3 linked regions of the Homo sapiens genome follow. The protein of the gene in region 2 purifies or fractionates together with the protein of the main gene of each other region. This does not show direct contact. Each region holds a gene or a part of one and is shown on either strand. Other genes may lie near its edges.

Region 1 (5,190 bases), on a different chromosome or scaffold from region 2:
ATGAAAACTTTTGGAGTTAAACCCAACCCTAGGGTAGTTACCACTAAAAATCCTAAATGAAGCTGACCTTGGATTCTAGTAAATTAAAGTCTTTTCCTTACCTTTTCCTCCATTAGCAAGTAGTTAATATTTAACGAGAATATTAGAAGAAATGCTCAATTCCAATAAATGAAACTGGAATCGACTAGTCTATATCTATATAAATTTTACAGCAACATACAGGACAAAAGCATGTCTTTTAACTTCCAGATTCCTTTTATTTAGGATTTTAAAGTCTTTAACAAGATATATACACATCCCACTCTACCAGGAATGGAAAGGAGCCTCTCCTCCTCACCCTACCACAATCATGCACTTAGTTGAAAGTGGACCATATATAAAATCATATATAAATTAGACATCTTTCTGAAACTGAAATAGTAAAATTACCAATTACTGGAGCAGGAGGTGCTTGTACTGGAGCTGTTTTATTCCAGGGACCTGAAGATTTTTCCATACCTCCACCACCACCTCCACCTTCTTCCCAGTTATCACCTGGATCTTGTCTCTTTTCATTATCGTCTTCTTCCTTTTCACTGCTGGAAAAGCAAAGATGTAAATTCATTAAGGAATCACCAAGAAAATTTTCAGTCCAAATCGTTAGTTTTATCCATGATTATCTGTACGACCCTGAAGAAGTCAATCTCTTTCGAGACTGAACGTCTTATTTAAAAAGTGAGGCCAGGTACAGTGGCTCACACCTGTAATCCCAGGACTTTGGGAGGCCAAGATGGGTGCACCACCTGAGGTCAGGTGTTCAAGACCAGGCTGGGCAACATGGCGAAACCCATCTGTACTAAAAATACAAAAATGAGCCAGGCATGGGGGCACACACCTACAATGCCAGCTACTGGGGAAGCTGAGGCAGGAGAATCCCTTGAACCCGGAAGGCAGAGGCTGCAGTGAGCTGAGATCGTGCCACTGCACTCCCTCCTGGGCGACAGAGCGTGACTGTCTCAAAAAAATAAAAATAAAAAAAACCTGATGTGCCTCTGTGACAATATGCCTGATCATTTATAGCAGCCCCACATAAGAGCAAGACCCCAGTTACCACCTCAAGCGACTAAGGGAGGGAAGAGAGGATGATACAACCTGAAATGCAGAGAAGAAGGTGAGCTGAAGGATTAAGAGCACAATTACAAAATTTTCCTTGCACCAAAGTGTACAAACAGGCATTTAAGGTAAGCATATTTTTAGTGAGCAAATGAAGAGTTTTGAAAGTTGTATAATTTTATTTGCCAATCCTTTCGCACATAAAATACTCTCAGAATTAGAATTCACATTCCAGCAGATGAAAACAAGTCTGTGTCCAGTGTTTACAGAGGATAGAATTAGCCCCTAACACCAGACATGTATTTATCACCTGTTTAAAAAAAATATATAAGATCTCAGTCTTTGGCTTTCCAGATGTTATAAATGGAAAAGATACCCTCAGTGGTAACATACCATCTTAAGACTGCTTGCAGTATTTTCTCAATGCTAATTAATTTATTCTTGAATTGACTTGAGTCATAATCTATTTCTCCAAGGCATCTTTGATTATTTCTCTTTTTGCTGGATTACTTTTTATTATTTTGTGTAACTTTACATGTCCTAAATTACCAAGTGTATTTATCTTTTGTCTCTTGACAAAAGGGATACTGACAACAGGGATATTAAAGCACAATAATGGCTAAATCGAACGTCCTTTTTGCAACTCTTCACCTCGAAGATACACCTGGCAGAAACTACCAACATTTTCATAAAATTATTTTTCATGACAATGGTGGCTTTTCCTAGGTCTTCAAGCTTCTCAACTCCTTCACCATTCTACCTTTTCCCCACCTTCCTATAAAAAAAAGGCTGGTTCCCAAAACTCTGTCCCTTGCCTTCTACTCATCACCCTGACTCTCTTAACTGTATAACCTTAGGAACATCACAGCCTCTCTTGGCTTCTGCAAAAGGATATCTAAGGATGCTTTCCTTCCATTTCTATTAAAACAAGACACATGCTGGCTATAAGACAAAGTTCTTGACTAGCTTGACAGTCTCCTTTAAAGATACTTAGGAAAAAAGTAAGTGGCAAAATGCCATTCAAAAATAATGGCACTGGCCAGGCGCAGTGGCTCACAACTGTAATCCCAGCACTTTGGGAGCTGAGGCAGGCCGATGACCTGAGGTCAGGAGTTGGAGACCAGCCTGGCCAACATGGCAAAACCCCATCTCCACTAAAAACACAAAAATTAGCCAGGTGTGGTGACACATGCCGGTTAGCTACTTGGGAGGCTGAGGCAGGAGAATCAGGTGAACCTGGGAGGCAGAGGTTGTAGTGGGCCAAGACTGTGCCACTGCACTCCAGCCTGGGTGACAGAGCGAGACTCCGTGTCAAAAATAAAAAATAAAAAATAATGGCAGCATTGTATGAATTACCTACCAACCAGAAGTGACTGCAGAATTTGGAGGCTAGAGTGACAATGAGGAAGAGTGGAAAGAAGAACAGATTTATCTCGTCTACATTTACAGCAAGATTTTACTTACAACTTTATCTGAGAGGAAAAAGGATAGAGAATATGGCAATTCATCCCTAAGAGGTCTGAGAAAGAAAAAAATGCAATTTAAAATAAAAATATAGCCAAGCCATCTCTCAGTTTTCCTTTTCGTTAACATGTAAGAGAATTCTATGCAGCCATTTAAAATGTAAACCCTATGCTGACATGGAGGTAGTATTCATGTCATATAAACCAAAATTCACTAAAACAACATCTATATACCTAATATAAATACAAAAACATCTACAACAATTTTAAAAAGTTTTATAGAGTAGCTCTGGGTGCTAGAATGTATGACTTTATCTTCTTCATGCAGCAAGCAATTAGGAGCAGATTCTAAAGTCAGGCTTCCTGGTTCAAATCCAGGCTCTGCCACTTACCAGCCAGGAAACTTTGAACATGGCACTTCATTTCTTTATACCTCAATTTCCTCTTATGTAAAATGGAGGTGACAACCCCATAATAATCAGCACTATTTACTGATTATCCCTAAATAGAAGAGACTACAGATAATTCTTACATATTTCTTTATGCTTCTACATTTTTCTCAAAAAAATTTCTAAAAACAAGCATATTATTTTTATAACCTACATAAAAAATCATTTTTTATTTTTAAAAATTAATTTTTAGAGACAGGGTCTTGCTCTGTCACCCAGGCTGGAGTACAGAGGCCCAATCTTAGCTCACTGCAATCTTCAACTCCAGGGCTCAAGAGATACTCCCACCTCAGCCTCCCAAGTAAGCTAGAACTAAAGGTGCAGACCACCACAATTGGCTAATTTTACTTTTTTACATTTTTTTGTAGAGACAGGGTCTTGCCCAGGCTGGTCTTGAACTCCTGGCCTCAAGTGATCCTCCTACCTCTGCCTCCCAAAGTGCTGGGATTACAGGAGTGAGCCACCACGCCCAGCCTCACAGAAAGCTTTTAAATAAAAACTCCTATTTGGTCTGATGGAATAGTGACAGTATCTCAACTGGAAGTTTTTTTTTTACTGTCTAGTGTCTAACATCTCCTTGCCCTTAGGAAAAAAATTAAAAAATAAAATAATCTCAAATTTAAAATACACCTAGTTTACAAACTATTACCAAAAAATAAGCATAATCTGTTTAATTAGAGGGATTGTACATCAATAATAAAAGGCACAAGGAGACAATTTAGTATTTTGGATTCTTGGCCAGGTGCAGTGGCTCATGCCCTAATCCCAGCACTTTGGAAGGCCAAGGTGGGAGGATCACTTGAGGCCAGGAGTTCAAAACCAGCTTGAGCAATATAGCAACACAGTGAGACTCTGTCTCTATTTTTTTTTTTTGAGATGGAGTTTCACTCCTGTTGCCCAGACTGGAGTGCAATGGCCTGATCTTGGCTCACTGCAACCTCTGCCTCCCGGGTTCAAGCAATTCTTCTATCTCAGCCCACCAAGTAACTGGGATTACAGGCATGCGCCATCATGCCCAGCTAATTTTTTGTATTTAGTAGAGACGGGGTTTCACCATGTTGGCCAGGCTGGTCTCGAACTCCTGACCTCAAGTAATCCACCTGCCTCAGCCTCCCAGAGTACTGAGATTACAGGCGTGAGCCACTGTGCCCGGCCAAAAGAAATTTTTTTAAATAAATATTTTGGGTTTTTCCAAATGTACATTAATAATAGACTGGATAAAGAAAACGTTGCACATATACCCCAAGGAATACTATGCAGCCATAAAAATGGATGAGCTCATGTCCTTTGCAGGGACATGGATAAAGCTGGAAACCATCATTCTCAGCAAAATATCACAAGGACAGAAAACCAAACACTGCATGTTCTCACTCACAAGTGGGAGTTGAACAATGAGAACAAATGGACACAGGGAGGGGAACATCACACACCAGGGCCTGTTGGGGGGTGGGGGACTGGGGGAGGGATAGCGTTAGGAGAAATACCTAATGTAAATGACAAGTTGATGGGTGCAGCAAACCACCATGGCACATATATACCTATGTAACAAACCTGCACGTTGTGTACATGTACCCTAGAACTTAAAGTATAATAATAATAAAAATAAATAAGTATTTTGGGTTAAGATTCTGAAATACTAGCTAAACTAAACATGTGGAAATTGTCTAGTCAAGACTCTTTATCAGCCGGGCGCAGTGGCTCATGCCTGTAATCCCAGCATCTTGGGAGGCAGAGGCGGGCAGATCACTGGAGGTCAGGAGTTCGAGACCACCCTGACCAACATGGTCAAACACTGTCTCTACTAAAAATACAAAAATTAGCTAGGCGTGGTGGCACATGCCTCTAATCCCAGCTACTTGGGAGGCTGAGGCAGGAGAATCGCTTGAACTTGGGAGGTGGAGGTTGCAGTGAGCGGAGATTGCGCCATTGCACCCCAGCCTGGGTAACAAAAGCAAAAACTCTATCAAAAAAAAAAAAGAACGAACAAACCAAAAACACTCTTCATCCAACAATTGAAGGAATTGAAGCCCAGAGATGCTTAGAGGCTTGCCTAAATGCCAGTTAGCAGGGTAGAAATGATTTACATATTTTATTACTTTTTCATCTTTACATATTTCAGAAAGTATCAACTCTCCAAATGTCATAGCAGAACAAGAAACACGTTCCAAACGGTTATTTCCATGGGA
Region 2 (5,190 bases):
AAAAAGCTCTGGAGCTCCCTGATTGCATGCAGTAACAACACTTTTTAAGCATCAAGTATTCAAAGATGTATTGTATATTATTTGTGGAAGCCCAGAAAGTTTCCCAAATCTTATCAGCTAAAAACAATTTAGAAGAGAACAAGCCACTGAACAATTTGGTCCCACTTCACTTTTGATTAAAAAGACCCTACTTACATAAAGAATCAATATCTAGACTATTAGGAACAACTTTTGGCAGAATATATACAGAACAGGGCAAACACTTTCTTAGAATTTTGAAGGATTCCATATAGTTCAAACTGCTCTTCCTACAAAAGAAATTAATCCTGGGCATTTTCTCTGGCACGACTGGTGGTTTATTGTAGTAGTTGATAAAAAGACCACCCTGACATTAGCAAAACATAACTGGGATCACTAAGGATAAACTCTGAAAAACACCTCAATGGGGAATAAAAAATAAAAAAATATGGCCAGGTGTGGTGGCTCACGCCTGTAAATCCCAGCACTTTCGGAGGCAGAGGCAGGTGGATCACAAGGTCAGGAGTTCAAGACCAGCCTGGCCAAGATGGTGAAACCCCGTCTCTACTAGAACTACAAAAATTAGCCTCGTGCAGTGGCAGGTGCCTGTAATCCCAGCTACTTGGGAGACTGAGGCAGGAGGATTGCTTGAACCCGGGCAGCAGACATTGCACTCCAGCCTGGGCTATAGAGTAAGACTCTGTCTCTAAATAAATAAATAAATAAATAAATAACAAAAAATAAAAAAAATATTTCCCTGGCAAAAGTAAGATATATTTGAGCCTGCAATTCCTGGTGTATCTCTCCTGACTCCTTAGGGAAAAGATTACAAGGTGTGTATGAGGAGTTGGGGAGTTTGAATGAATGGCATATGAGGTCAAACACTGAACACAAAGGAAACATTAAGGAAACATACAAATAAGCAAGCATAAACCAAGCCGATAGGATAAGGTATCTTTCTACAAAAAAACAGTACATTGCTTTGTTTTAGGTCTCAAGGGATAAACAAGGTCACTGATTAATGCAAAATAAAAAGAAACAGGGATCACAATAGTGAGACAAAAATAAAAGAGAAGGCATTTATAATACTCAACTATTAAGATTTTAAGTCATAAATTTTCATGTGCCAAACAACATATCATAGATCATCTAAGAAAAAGTGCTAGACATAGAAAAACTAAGAGAAAATAGACTGGCCAACTTTAAATTCTCTCTCTCCTTGGAGGCCTAAACCAGAAAAAAATAAATAAAATATTACATAAAAGACGAAGACTCATTCTTTATATAGTTACTGAAAGAGCTTTTCTCAACCATTTTAATCAGTCACAAAGAAAACAATTCTGAAAAGCAAAAGCTGAATAGGTAACATTCTCTGTAAACTATGCAATAACATTCAAAAGTTAACAGAGTTAGTTTATTCATTCACCAAATCTTTTGAACGTCTGTTATGCGCTGAAGATACCACAGTAAATAAAATGGATATAGTCCCTACCACTGTACAAACTTATGGTCGAGTCAGACCAGTGCTGTCTCACAGAAACATAATGAGAGCCACATGTGGTTTTCTATTTCCTAGTAGTCACATTGAAATTTAAAAATTGGCTGGGCACGGTGGCTCACGCCTGTAATCCCAAGACTTTCAGAGGCCAAGGCAGACAGATTACTTGAGCTCTAAAGTTCAAGACCGGCTGAGCGCGGTAGCTCACGCCTATAATCCCAGCACTTTGGGAGGCCACAGTGGGCGGATCACCTGAGGTCAGGTGTTCGAGACCAGCCTGGCCAATATGGCGAAACCCAGTCTCTACTTAAAATACAAAAATTAGCCAGGCGTGGTGGCACTCGCCTGTAATCCCAGCTACTCCGGAGGCTGAGGCAGGAGAATCACTTGAACCCGGGGGCTGGAGGCTGCAGTTAGCCGAGATCGTGCCACTGTACTCCAGCCTGGGCAACAGAGCGAGACTCCATCTCAAAAAAAAAGTTCAAGACCAGCCTGGGCAACACAGTGAAACCCCATCTCTACAAAAAATTTTAAAAATTTTTAAAAATTATACAGGCATGGTGGCGCGCCTGTAGTCCCAGCTACTTAGGAGGCTGAGGTGGGAGGATCCCTTGAGCCAGGGAGGTTGAGACTACAGTGAGCCAACATCACATCACTGCACTCCATCCTGGGCGACAAAGGCAACACCATGTCTCAAAAACAAACAAACAAACAAACAAAAAAAAAAAAAACAGGCCAGGCGCGGTGGTGCTCGCCTGTAGTCCCAGCTACTTGGGAAGCAGAGGCAGGAGAATCACTTGAACCCAGGAGGCAGAGGTTGCAGTGAGCCGAGATTGTGCCACTGCACTCCAGCCTGGGCAACAGAGTAAGATTCCGTCTCAAGAAAAAAAAATTTTTTTAATTAAGAAATAAAATTAACAGTAATAGTATATTTTAACACAATACATGTAAAATATCACTACTTCAATATGTAATATTTTAAAAATTGAGATATTTTCATTGTTTGGTACTAGAAATCAAGTTCCTATTTCAAACTTAATACATCAGTTCAGACTTGCCATATCTCAATAGTCAGATGTGACTATTTAAATAAAATATGGTAGCCATTAGCCACAGGACTATAAATTAAGATAAGTATCTATTATTGCAGAAGACTGTCTCTCTGCTGTCCAACACAATCGCCACTAGCCACATAAGGCCACTGAGTGAGCACCTAGAATGTGACTAATACAAATGAGGAACTGAATTTTTAATATTAAATTAAATTTAAATTTATTTAAATAGCCACAAGTGGATGGTAGCTACCAGACTATGGTTCTGGAAGAAGAAATAGATGCTAAAACAATTCACACAAACTTAATGAACTGGAGTTGTTACAAATGTTTATGAAAGAAAAGCCCAATATAAAATGAGCCCATGAAGCCAAGAGAAAGACCTAACCTATTTTGTGGCATCAAGGAAGGATTCCTCAAGGAAATCACAACTAAGCAAAACAAAAGCATATGCAAAGGTCTTGAGTAGAGAAAACTGAAAACAGTAGAAATAATGAAGAAAAGTAACAAGAGGTAAAATAATATATGCTATTTGTAGGAGACTGATTTGGATTACAAAATCAAAACTCCATAGGAAGGCAGGAGGGGTGGAAGCAGCCCTACCATTTGGAAATAAAAAATAAAAGTCTCCCAAACAAGTCCTGAAACAAAGCTTGTCCCACTGTCCTCCCTCAGTAAACACCAGTCATTCTAATCTTCTGTCAAATTCAAAGTCAAGTCAAGCACTTTGCATATGTACCATTTGTGCCAGCAGTTCTCTTCACATGGGAAACTACCTTCAACTTCTTGATTTTAGAACTCAGAATCAAAGTTCCAAATTTTCTACACAGGACAAGCTTTGGAGCAGCAATCCAGCTGGAAGATGGGGAAGAGGCTTCAAACTGTTTGCAATTTTTTTTTTTTTTTTTTGGGAGATGGAGTCTCACTGTGTCGCCCAGGCTAGAGTGTAGTGGTGCAGTCTCGGCTCACTGCAACCTCCGCCTCTAAGTTTCAAGTGATTCTCCTGCCTCAGCCTCCCGAGTAGCTGGGATTACAGCTACCGGCCACCACGCCCAGCTAATTTTGGTATTTTCAACAGAGATGAGGTTTCGCCACGTTGGCCAGGCTGGTCTTGAACTCTTGACATCAAGTGATCTCAGCCAGGCCTGCAAAGCAATTTTCACAAAATATTTTCCCAAAAAAACTTAGTCATTTCGGCTGGGCGTGGTGGCTCACGCCTGTAATCCCAGCACTTTGGGAGGCTGAGGCGGGTGGATCACCTGAGGTCAGGAATTTGTGACCAGCCTGGCCACCGTGGTGAAACCCCATCTCTACTAAAAATACAAAAATTAGCTGGGCATGGTGGCGCATGCCTGTAATCTCAGCTACTCAGGAGGCTGAGGCAGGAGAATTGCTTGAACCCAGGAGGCAGAGGTTGCAGCGAGCCAAGACCACACCACTGCACTCCAGCCTGGGCAACAGAGTGAGACTCCGTTTTTTTTTTTTTTTATGTTTCGATAGATTGGGAAAGCTAAAGAAACTCCCATACACACCTTGGTACCACCAATCAACTTAAACATGACATCCTCAGAGAGACAGTCTCAGATCATCCAATTAGCACCTTCTATTATTTATTTACTTCCTAGACACTTGTCGAAATCTGAAAATTCTTTATTCGTTGGTTTGTCTATATTGACAGACTGTAACTGGATGAAGGCAAGAGACCTTGTCTTGTACATAGTTGTGTCCTCAGCACTTGGCAGAATGTCTAGATGGAGCAGGTGCTTAAATACTTGTTGAAAAAATAAAAACTGCAACTGCAGGGGTTTTTAAATATATAAACATAAAAATATTACTCATCAAAATTTAAGTAATATAGCTAAAGCTATGCTCAGAGGAACATTCAATAGGATTACATTTTTTCATTATAAAACATAAAATATTATAAAAGTTGCAATTTTTTTAAGTTAAAAAATTCAAAACTGGCCAGGCACAGTGGGTCACGCCTGTAATCCCAGCACTTTGGGAGGCCGAGGTGGGTAGATCACCTGAGGTCAGGGGTTCGAGACCAGCTTGGCCAACACGATGAAACCCTATCTCTACTAAAAACACAAAAATTAGCCAGGTGTGGTGGCACACCCCTGTAATCCCAACTACTCAGAAGGCTGAGGCATGAGAATCACTTGAACCTGGAGACAAAGGCTGCAGTGAGCCAAGATCATGCCATCACACTCCAGCCTGGGCAACAGAGTAAGACTCTGTCTCCAAAAAAAAAAAAAAAAAAAAAAAAATCAAAACCAAAACTAATTTGAAGCCCCAAAAGAATAAACTAAAAAATCTGAGGACTAACAAAGCAACAACCAAAAAAGGGGGATGGGGGGGAGACTTAAACAATAACAGAAACACACTTGTTTACAAAATGAAAATACCATGCCCCATGTATACAAGTGTACACTGGTACCAAATCATTGATATTTCAATAAAACCTAAAAAGAACCAAGAAGATGTGCATTTAACATATGATAAAGGCAGCTTTATTTCAAGGCAACAAGTTGTTTTTTTTTTTAGTGGGGCCAAAATTTTTAAGGAAAAATAAGGGAGGTTATTTCACTTCACATATGTCAAAATAAATCCCAGATGAAC
Region 3 (5,190 bases), on a different chromosome or scaffold from region 2:
CCCCCTCACCAGCTTGGTATTTCCTATTTCTGCCCCACACTGAAAATAAGGCTCAGAGTGCACCAAGACAAAGAAGGATAAGAAGAGCAAAGTACTAAACCATACATCATGCACACAGTTCCTTTTTTCCCTCCCCATATTTTCCCAAATTCCTTAGCTGGAGGCAGCATGGTATGATGGTAGGAATGGCCCAGGTCAAATCCTGGCCAGTGTGTGGCCCTGGGCTAATTCCTCTCCACGCTGGAGCGCAGTGCCCTCCTCTGTACAGGGGGATACCTCCACCTACCTTGCAGAGCTGTAACAGTAAATGCGATGGTGGCACTAGGTAAGGTGCTTGGTGCCTGGCACACTTTAGACATTTGGTAAAAGTTCATTAGTATTTCCAAACAAAACTGTTAAGTGGTTACTGATGTATAATAAAGTCAACAGAACAATCCCTTCCCAGCTGGAGAAACGGAACTCTTCCAGTTACAATACCCTACATGAGAGGGGAAAATGCTGGTTGGTGAAGTAAGGTGGTCTAACTATGTATTGAGAGCACCACAGACTGCTCTCAAGAGAGCGCCTGCAAGTAATTTGATCATTATATTCTGACCAAAGAACATAACATAAGACACATACAATATGATTTAAACAAATCTGATTTTCAAATCTGCTACATCAGTTATGAGGTACATAGACTGTCAAAACAAACAACAAAACTAAAAGAATCATTTTAAGACAATTAAAGGCTTTATAATCTAATAAAAAGAAAATTTAACCTCTATGACAAAAAAGACGTTTCTTCAATAAATACAGTGTAAGAATAAAGGGGGGGAACCTATATTTTAGAGACTGGCGTTATATAAACCAGTGAAATGGACTTTCTTTGGATCTTGTTTCAAACAATTTCTCTTTTAAAAAGAAGCTGATCCAAAAAATTTGAATAGTGACTAGATACTTAATATTCAGTAATTGTTATTTATTTGAGACAGTCTCACTCCCATCACCCAGCCATGAGTACAGTGGTGGTGATCCTCCTGCCTCACTCTTCCGAGCAGCTGGGACTACAGGTGAGTACCACCTCACCCGGCTAGTCTTTGTATTTTTTGTAGAGACAGGCTTTCGCCATATTACCAGGCTGGTCTCGAACTCCTGGGCTCAAGCAATCCTCCTGCCTTGGCCTCCCAAAGTGCTGGGATTACAGGCGTGAGCCATTGCACCTGGCCTATTTGTTAATTTTTTAGGTATGAAACTGGTATTATGGTTATACTTAAATCCTTACTTTTTTGAGCTATACATTCAAATATCAATGGAATATTTGACATCTTGGATTTGCTTCAAAATAATCTAGGGGAACAGAGATGAAATTATCAGCCATGTACAGTGGCTCACATCTACAATCCCAGCACTTTGGGGAGCCAAGACAGGGGGATCACCTGAGCCCAGGAGTTCAAGACCAGCCTGGGCAATTTAGCAAGAAACTGTCTCTATACACACACACACACACACACACACACACACACACACACACACACACACACACACACGGAATTACGGTTTCATCTGCTGAAGCCAGGTGCTATATTATCTCTCTACTTTTTGTTAAGCTTGAAATTTTCCATAATTTTTTTTTAAAAAAAACAAAAGGCAGTAAGAAAAATAAAATCTTTAAAAAAAAAATAGCAGTTTTTGAAGGGCTGTATGTAAAACTATAAAGTTTGAGTTGAAAACAAGATAAAGTAACACACAGATGCCTGATCTTTTTTTTTTTTTAATTTGAATCAGCTTTTTGAATCCATTTCTGTAAGGAACATAACATAACAAGCCCAACATTTTACTAAATGTTAAAAGGCAGAGATGCACCATTTAAAAAAACCTAAAGCCTCTAACCCTGTCCATCGGCCCTCTAAAAGTGAGGAACTTGAAAAACCAGGTTAGTACCTTCTAGCAAATAGGTACTAACCTGGTTTTTCAAGTTCCTCGCTTTGTTCAGAGGACACTACCTCTGAACTTCCAGATTAGCTTATAAAATAATTCCAAAAGTCTTCATTGAAGGCCAATGGCCAAGTTCATTAGCCATGGATCTTCCCAGTAAACTTTTTACCCTCAATGGGCTTATGTGTGAGGGGTTAGAAGGGGTTAGAAGTAGGTTTTTCCTCCCAAATAATATAAAGCCCTCATTTAAAAAAAAAAAATCTGAAACATTAACTGTACAAGTATAATGCAATGGTAGTGGATACTGTAGAGATTATCATAGATGTCTGAGATACAGGGTATTTGGGGCCCAAATATTTATTCACTATTAGTCTGGATAAGGGAAAACAATCTACATGCGAAAATTGCAATCTTCCAGTATTTCATGGAAGACAAGCAGTACTTAAACGGGTCTCCTAGAAATAACCTCAAATAAGTCCCAAACCCAGTGACTCCTGGGACATCAAGTGATGATCTCATTTGTGGTGCCTGATCGTTTCCTAATAAATAACCGACTGCCACTATGCATATGCAAAGTTCTGAAACACCCGTGACAGCAGTTTTACTTTAGGTATGAATGGTGACACTTTTGCTAATCTTGAGAAGCCGTTTAAATAAACCAAATGCCATTACCTCTTCCCTCAGTGCGTACTGTTCGATGAGCTTCTTTAGCTTCTCCCCCAGCTCAATGTTTTCCTGTCGGAGTTTGGCGTTGTGGATGTCATGCTGCTCCAGCTGGGCTTGAATTTCATTTAAGGTAATCTGGAAATGTGCAGTTGCTTCTTTACGTCGTTCTTCTTCCTCTCGTGCCTGCTGCATATTTTCCTCCTTATTACCCAAAATAATTTTTGTTAATAATACAGACCTATAGAGAAGATGCTCACAAGAGAAGCTGCTGCAATGTGGGTTCATTTGTTGCTGCCCTGACGTGTTGCTTCTGAACTACAATTCCTCCCCCTTATTTATGACCAGAAGGCTATCACTGAAAAGCAAGCAGTTTTTCCTAAGTAGACAGATAACCAGAGAGATGCAAACTGTCCTGCTACAAAATAAATGTTATGGCTGTCTACAATTCACTCTACTGCAATACTCGCCGGTTACACAGGCCATCATCTTAGATGGGTCGGAAGAGATCCTGCCCCCTTGCAGCTTACTTTCTGGGTCACACTTACTCCCTAAAGGGCAAAGGACAAATGGAATCCTCATCTCAAAAAGCTTCCTTTCTGTAACTACTTTCTGATGATTAAAAAGAAAAAACAAAAAATTCAAAGCTTACTTTCAATTCTTGCTAGGATATGAGTGTCAAAAGACCTTTACATGTCTGAACTGTTACCAGCCTACTCAAAATATTGATTTCCTATGGGAAAAAAAAAATACCACTTACTTTGACATCTAAATCCAAGGGCTCAAAAGCAAAGAAGGTAATAATGGCTCCCATACCAGGTGAAGATCCATTTCAAGAGTGCACTTATAGTCTAGGGCCTTGGGAGTTTGTTGGGGCATAAAGGGAGTTTATTGGGGCATAAAGGGCATAAAGGGAGTCTGTCCCATTCTAAGAGGCAGATTCCTTCCCACGGCTCTGCTCCTTTCCTTCTTCCCCTGTTGATATCAATGAATCTTTGGATACCTATTCCCTCTTCCTTTACAATCAGCCAAGGTATAAGTGGTTTCCTAAAAGTACTTAGCAACTGAATGGCTGGGGGTGGGCCAGTGGAACTGGGCAATGCTCCACCCAGGAGCTCAGCAGTTCTCCCTTCCCAGACTGTCTGTTACTAGTTTCTCATTTCACTGCAGCTTTTCCTACTTGGTGATCAGCTGTATCAGTGCTCAGCAGAAAACTGGCAATTCTGAGCTTCCTAAGCCATGGCTCTAAGCAGGAGGGCCTTGAGCGTAGATTCCCGGGAGCCAAGTATGAGGCAACTAAGGTGCTCTTCCTTGAACAGGAAACCAAAACTTACGTAGAAAGAATTGGTCTTACATTTACAATGACCTCACACAAGGCATCAGGCCAAGCAAAATAAAAAGCAAGGCAGTATCTGTCTCCAAGTAGAGACAAGGATTTATTTCAGATAGGCACAGGGTTGATTATGAAATCAGATAAGTCCCTCCTGAAAAAAACAGACAAATGAAGCAACTAACCTTTAACGTCTTATTGTGACGCTGAAGTTCTCTGCAAAGAGATTCTAGCTTGCTTCTTGCCAAGATAGCCTTGCTATGTTCACTCTGCAAGTGAACTTTCTCTTTCACAATCTGGGCTTGCTTCTTCTGCAGGATCTTCATTTGCTTCTGAACACTCCTGCTCTCCTCCAGCTAAAATTCATAAGCACTTTGTATTTAGGAAGTACAGTAAAAATCTTACAGTTATGGCTAGAATTATAATGAGAGCTATGGAACACATTTTCAAAAAGTCAAATACTATGGTTTAATATATTATTTAAATTGTTTCATGCCATGCTACACTGCCACCCTTCTCTTCTCTCCTCTTCCAGTTGTGACAAAAAAGTAAGCAAATTTAGGGCAGCAGAAAATAATCCATCTTTTTCTTTTTTAAAAAAAAATCCTTTAGACAGATTTAATTTTCACAACCCTTTATTATCCAGGTTTTATAGAAGAAATGTATAAGCCTGGAGACATTAATAAGTTGCCTAACATTCTTTAATTAGTACAGATAATCAGTAAGGGGTGAGGTGGGATTTGAACCCAGCAGCCTGAATCTCTGGCTTTCTTGACTTCCGTATTGGCCTGCTATCCCCTGGGGTCCTGAATTTTGCCAGCTTTCTGACTTCAGACACTGATCACAGATCTTCTCCCTGCTTTCAACCCAACAACTCACAAGCAACATGGGCTCCTCAACTTCCAGCTATGATCTTGTGCTTTTTGAAGGATGATGCCCTTCAACTGGATACCTCCTGCCCCTGAATTTTCCTGGGCCCACTGGGAACACTGCCCAAGTATTCCAGCCTTAACCCTTTGGAAAATAAACCAGCTCCAGTTCTAGCTGAAACCTACTCCAATGTTGAAGGCCAGGAGTGACTCAGTGCTAAAGCCAGGCATGTCCCGAATTGCTGTTTGCTGGGTGAATGTCTGTCTAGATCATTTCCTACCTGGCAAAAAACCCGCTGAAATCCAAATATTTTAACAATCAATTTATTGTGCTTTGGGGTTTTGATTTTTTTATTTTCATTATCATTTTTTTAGATGGACTATTATTCTGTTGCACAATCTCGGCTCACT

Evidence for each region. Proteins that work in one complex are often made in the same cells at the same time.
Region 1: the proteins of ZFAND6 (region 2) and CDV3 fractionate together in Homo sapiens (co-fractionation; one large-scale study listed by BioGRID). This does not show direct contact.
Region 3: the proteins of ZFAND6 (region 2) and TXLNG fractionate together in Homo sapiens (co-fractionation; one large-scale study listed by BioGRID). This does not show direct contact.

Annotation. Positions count from the first base shown.
Region 1 is NC_000003.12:133,579,390-133,584,579, reverse strand, and holds part of CDV3 (protein CDV3 homolog), read right to left. Parts: intron 579-5,190; coding exon 430-578; intron 1-429.
Region 2 is NC_000015.10:80,065,186-80,070,375, reverse strand, and holds part of ZFAND6 (AN1-type zinc finger protein 6), read right to left. Parts: intron 1-5,190. UniProt on the Homo sapiens protein: Involved in regulation of TNF-alpha induced NF-kappa-B activation and apoptosis. Involved in modulation of 'Lys-48'-linked polyubiquitination status of TRAF2 and decreases association of TRAF2 with RIPK1.
Region 3 is NC_000023.11:16,827,170-16,832,359, reverse strand, and holds part of TXLNG (gamma-taxilin), read right to left. Parts: intron 4,267-5,190; coding exon 4,096-4,266; intron 4,044-4,095; exon of another isoform or gene 3,395-4,043; coding exon of another isoform or gene 3,341-3,394; intron 2,785-3,340; coding exon 2,590-2,784; intron 1-2,589. UniProt on the Homo sapiens protein: May be involved in intracellular vesicle traffic. Inhibits ATF4-mediated transcription, possibly by dimerizing with ATF4 to form inactive dimers that cannot bind DNA. May be involved in regulating bone mass density through an ATF4-dependent pathway.